Linked DNA regions of Homo sapiens: region 1 is linked to region 2. Evidence: fine-mapped expression QTL. Tissue or cell type: whole blood. Region 2 holds a variant in brackets; the other region holds the start of a gene. All regions are shown on one strand. Distances are between the middles of the regions. Region 1 holds the start of DICER1 (dicer 1, ribonuclease III). Region 2 overlaps DICER1-AS1 (DICER1 antisense RNA 1).

Region 1 (2,500 bases), 22 kb after region 2:
CAAGCCCTAGATCAGCCTGCCCAATGGCAATATAATGCAGGCCACAGGTGACATTTAAAATTCTGTAGAACCCACACTAAAAAATAAACAAATAAAACTTTTATCCCAATATATGGAAAAAGTTTATCACTTCAACATGTAACAATTTTTTGAACATTATTTGGTAAAGAATGCATATATCTCGATTCCGACTAGCCATACTTTAAGTGCTCAGGAGCCATGTGGGGCTGGTGGCCCCAAACTGAACAGCACAGCCCAGGCAGCAGGGGCGCATAGTAGGTTCTGCTCACGCCCATGGTCTGAAAGAAACACGGTTGCAGTTGCTGTGAGCACACCTCACCTGGAGCAAACCGGCCTATCAGGGGGTCCACTGAAGAGATGTCTACATTTGGGGATAAATTAAGAAGATGTTCTTTAAGCCAGCCACTTATTTAATTCCCACCGATATTTTAATTCCTAGCTTCAAGCTGTGGTGCGCGGTTCCGACCTATGCAAATGAACAGCTTACAAACAGAGGGCCACCATCTATTTCTCATTATCTGGGGATCCCGGTTGGGGTGGGGGGCGGAAGTGGGTGTTTGTTATTTCCCCAAATGCGGAGGCCCCTGCACCACTAACGCGAGGAAACGCAGGCGAGTGGGAAGGTACTTTAAAAAGGGGAGGGAGGTGCTCAGAGGGAAGCTAAGCTCTCCGGGAAACAATTACGGCCACGTTACGGTCTGTGGGTGCCAGAAGGAGCAACAATGGAGGCAGTCGAATTCCGAGAGCTCAGAGAGTCTGCCAAACTTAGCCGGCCTCGGCGCGCGGGTTCCCGGGGGCCCCAAAAACTCCGGGCAACTGCGGCCCAACGCCAAGGTCCAGTCCAGGCGCTGGGCCGCAAACGCCTCTCCGGCCTCCGCGCGCGCGCCCGCTGTCTCCCTGCTCCTGAGTGGCTGGGGGGCCGGGATTAACCTTTCACCGCCAGGCCCTGTCCAATCACAGGCTCGCTCTCATGCCGCCACGGGGCGAGCGGAGCGTGGGGGCGCGGAGGGGCGGTGCGGGAGCCAGTGGGATTCTCCAAGCGGCTGTGCGCCGTTGCCGCGGGCCGTGCGCTGGCTGCCGGCCAGCCGGGCGCTGCGCAGTCTCCGCAGGCGCCGGCGGGAGGGGTCGAGGCGGAGGCGCGGCGCAGGCTGCTGCAGGCCCAGGTGAATGGAGTAACCTGACAGCGGGGACGAGGCGACGGCGAGCGCGAGGAAATGGCGGCGGGGGCGGCGGCGCCGGGCGGCTCCGGGAGGCCTGGGCTGTGACGCGCGCGCCGGAGCGGGGTCCGATGGTTCTCGAAGGCCCGCGGCGCCCCGTGCTGCAGGTGAGGCGGGCTCCCGCGGAGCAGCTTTGTGTCCGGGGCGGGGAGCGGGTCGCCTGGCCGCGCTCCCGCCTCCGCGCGGAGGCCCGCGTGCCGGCCATGGCCCCGAGCCGCGCGTCCGGGCCTGGCGGGCGCTGACGAAGGGCGCGGCCTCGCCTGCCTCGTCGTCCCGCACAGCGCGGCCTGTGGACCCGGCGTCTGCCCGCCTCGGCTCTGCTCCTGGGCCCGGACCCCGGCGCCTCCCCGCGAGGCAGCCCTGGGAGACTTTCCGGGCCGCCGTGGCGTGGTGGGGGATGCCGGCGCCTGTCCACTCCCCGGCCTGGCGAGGCCTGGGGCTCTTGACAGGTCCCGTCACGCGCGCTAAGGTGGCGCGGGAGCAGCGGAGGTGGAGACGCGCGCCTGACCTGCCGGAGCACCCTGGGGCCCTCCTCTGATGGGGCCGCTGTGCCGCGCCCGGAGGGGACGAAGCTGGGCTCTCGGTCCCTCCCGGGAGGGTCCTGTGTGATTACTGTCAGGGGACCAGATTGGGGCCCTGGGGGGCGGGCAGGGGCCGAGGCCATTCTTTTGCCTCTCCCCTCAGATGTTTTTGTGCCAAAATGCCTAGACCCTGCGGAGGACCCTTTCTTCAGGGTTTTTGATTTTGGGGAAATCAGTGTATGTTTTAAGTTAGCACATCAGATTTCTGTAGATTGTCCAGAAAAGCTGAGTTGCCCTGATGGCTCTGCCTGGAGGTCAGAGCCAGCAAACCACTGAGTGTGTCCTTAGGAACCTGAAGATCCGCGGAAACGTGGAGATGAGTTGGAGGGTCCTATTTGTGTAGTGTTAACTCCGTGCTTTTGTGGAGAGAGTTGTGGTTAAAGGGACACGTTACTGGTCTACACGATAAGTAAGTGTTCTTAGGACTTTCAGGTTTTAAAAACATTCATCTGATGAAAGAGGATCACTTGGACGCCTATGCTTCTGTCTTCGAATATTCTGAATCTTTACAATCCTGATTGTCAGGTGTCTTCGTGGTGCTTGTTTTCAAACAGTGGAAAAGGACTCAGGTTAGGATTTAAGCAACTCGGAAAATATTGTTAAAAATGTGCTGTTAAAACAGGTTAGCTATATTGAATATGTATTGGTGTAAACGTTAAGTTTTCTAAATAAAAATATACA
Region 2 (2,923 bases):
TGAACTGGGATCCACTGGAGAATTTTGAGCACACGTCAGCTTACATTTTAGCAGGCTAAACCCAGCTGCCATAATGAGAATAAACTCCAGGGAACGAGGGCAGAATGCAGAGGCCAGCCAGAAGTCTATTTCAACAGTCCGGGAGAGATGACAATGGCACAGGTGGGTGCAGCGGAAGTGGGCCACAGTGGTTTTATTCTGGATGTATTTTGAAAGTAGACCCTCTGGATTTGCAAATGGATTGGGTGTACAGTGTAAGAGAAAAAGGATTGAAAAATGCTCCAAGGTTTTGGCCTGAGGATCTGGAAGAATAAAGATGCCATTGGCTGATGGGGAAATGGGGCTGAAGCAGATGGTGGGGAAGACCCGGAGTTCCTGAATCTGAGCATGTTAAGTTTGAGACGCCCGTTGCTCATCTCCTTTTCCTCTCCCTGTCCAAGGGTACTCGGGCTGTGGCACTGAAGTGCCCTGAGGTGACTGTGCCTCTGTCTGCACTGGTAGGGCGCAGCCCCCATGGCCCCTTAGCTGCTCTGCTGCTGTGCCGTGATTGACTGGGCTTGGGCATCTCTGACCAGTTTTGGAATCTCAGGTCCCCAGTGTACCATGAGGCCATTCCCATGGCATCTGCGGAGCCCCCAGACTGATCTCTCCCCCACCAATCCCATTCTGACACGCCACCCCGAAGTGGGTCTTCCGACCACTCTCCCTGCTGTATTTGAATTTTAAATCTTTTGAATACAGATACCAGGAGGCCCTTCACAAACCTTCCTGGATGCACAGAGCCTTCTCCCTGCTTGAATGGAGACAAAGAGAAAACACATCAAACGATCTGGCCACATTAAAAGGGGAATGGCAGGCTGTATGACAGGAAGATAAACCCTGTACTGAAATTTCCAAAGCCTGTAAACAGCTGAGCATAATCATGTTTCAACTTGGTGGTATATTACTTTGGACAGAGTGGTTATGCCATAAAAAGCTCAAAGCGTGAAGATGGGGTTCTATTTTTTCCATTAATTGCTGCAGCGTTTCAGATTAATTCCAGTGACGTGACAGCCCAAAAAAGCAATGGTTTAAACACCAATAAATTTTATTTTTCTCTTAAGAGAGACAGTCCTGCTTGGCACAGCAGCTCCCCTGTCCTTCTCGCCACTCTCAGTGCTCTGGCTGTGTCATCCTTAGACAATCGTCCTTGTCTTTATGGTCCAAAATGGTGTCTGTACATCCAGACCACACATCCATATTCCATGCTGCAGAATGGAAGAGAGGCAGTGAAGGGCGGGGGCGGCTCCTGCCTTCTCAGAGTTCCCAGAAGAA[C/A]CCTCACAACACATGGGCTCTCATCTCCTTGTCCGAGCTAAGCCACTGACCACAGCTGCTATGGAGTAAGGAAATGTGTCCTTGGTCCAAACACAGAAGATCTTGCTTCTCTCCCATCTTCACCTTCTCCCGAGCACGTCCTTCCTCCATCCGCAGCCTGGGCACTCCTTCAGCTCCAACCTGTGCTAAATGAATTACAAGTTAGAAGGGCTGTTGGTTGGCAGCAGGCATCTAGCAGCCTTGGTGACATTTGTCTAAGTCCTGGTTGTCAGGGGTGATGTGGGCAGCTTGTTCCTTATACATACCTGTATGGAAGGCCTGCAGGGTGTCTGGGGCTTAGAGATGGTAATGAAATCAAATCCATCCTCTGAAGGAGTTCACCCAGAGCAACTACCATTTCTTTCTTTTTTTTTTTTTTTTTTTTTTTTGAGACAGTGTCTCACCCTGTTGCTCACGCTGGAGTGTAATGGCACGATCATAGCTCACTGCAGCTTTGAACTCCTTAGCTCAAGGGAGCCTCCTGCCTCAGCCTCCTGAGTAGCTGGGACTACAGGTGTGCACTACCTGCCAGGCTCACAGCTACCCATTCTTGAGCACTCTCCCAGGCGCTAGGCTATGAACATACTATACTATCACAAGACTCTCACAGTGAGTTTTGTGGTGGGTGGTTGCGTCCTTCCCATGAGAAGGTTGAGGCTGGAAGGAATGATTGAATGAAGATAGTGCAGGCAGAGTTGGAATAGGAACCCGGGGCCACTGGAATGTTTCTGGCACATCAGTCTTCCTTGTGTGTCCCCAGAAGTGGCCCCCAAGAGAATGTGACCTGGGCCATGGGATCTGCAGCTGCTTCTGGTGGGCAGGGCTCAGAGAGACCCACAGGGCAAAAATGACTGCCAGGGTTCCAGTCTGAGGCCTACGTCCTGCCATGTGGAAGAAAGCTGGACAGGGAGCTTCGTGTGCCATTGACTCAGGGGTCCATTCTTTTAGGACCTCTGAAAAGTCTCAACATTCCCAGCCCTCAGTTCCCTCAACTGTGAATGCAAATCATAACAGTCCCCATAGGAAAAAGAACTCAATAGACATTTCTGAAAAAAAAAAAAAAAAAATAGCAAACAGGCATATGAAAAGGGGCTCAACATCAGTGATCATCAGAGAAATGCAAATTAAAACCACAATGAGATATCATCTCACTCCAGTTAAAATGGCTTCTATCCAAAAGACAGGCAATAAGGAATGGGGGCGAGGATGTGGAGAAAAGGGAACCCTTGTATGCTGTTGTTGGGAATGTAAATTAGTACAACCACTATGGAGAATGGTTTGGAGGTTCCTCAAAAAACTAACAATAGGACCGGGCATGGTGGCTCACGCCTGTAATCCCAGCACTTTGGGAAGCTGAGGCGGGTGGATCACTTGAGATCAGGAGTTTGAGACCAGCCTGGCCAACATGGTGAAACCCTGTACTAAAAATACGAAAGTTAGCCAAGTGTGGTGGCACACACCTGTAATCCCAGGCACTCAGGAGGCTGAGGTAGGAGAATCACTTGAACCTGGGAGGCAGAGGTTACAGTGAGCCAAGATTGCGCCATTGCACTCCAGCCTAGGCAACAGA

Evidence for each region. PIP is the estimated chance that this variant, and not a neighbour inherited with it, causes the effect.
Region 1: it holds the start of DICER1, and the variant in region 2 is fine-mapped to the expression of DICER1 in whole blood (TOPMed, PIP 0.93).

The regions. Positions count from the first base shown.
Region 1 is chr14:95,156,075-95,158,574 of GRCh38, reverse strand. DICER1 (dicer 1, ribonuclease III) reads left to right here and starts at 1,046. Exons shown (of 27, transcript NM_177438.3): 1 at 1,046-1,345. DICER1-AS1 (DICER1 antisense RNA 1) reads right to left here and starts at 887. Exons shown (of 4, transcript NR_015415.1): 1 at 717-887; 2 at 341-382. RefSeq lists enhancers at 576-645, 686-785 and silencers at 876-1,335, 1,396-1,755.
Region 2 is chr14:95,178,075-95,180,997 of GRCh38, reverse strand. DICER1-AS1 (DICER1 antisense RNA 1) reads right to left here. Exons shown (of 4, transcript NR_015415.1): 4 at 1,065-1,494. Among named protein-coding and RNA genes, the nearest start is that of DICER1-AS1, 22 kb to the right of the region's middle. The variant C/A (reference allele first, on the strand shown) is at 1,315.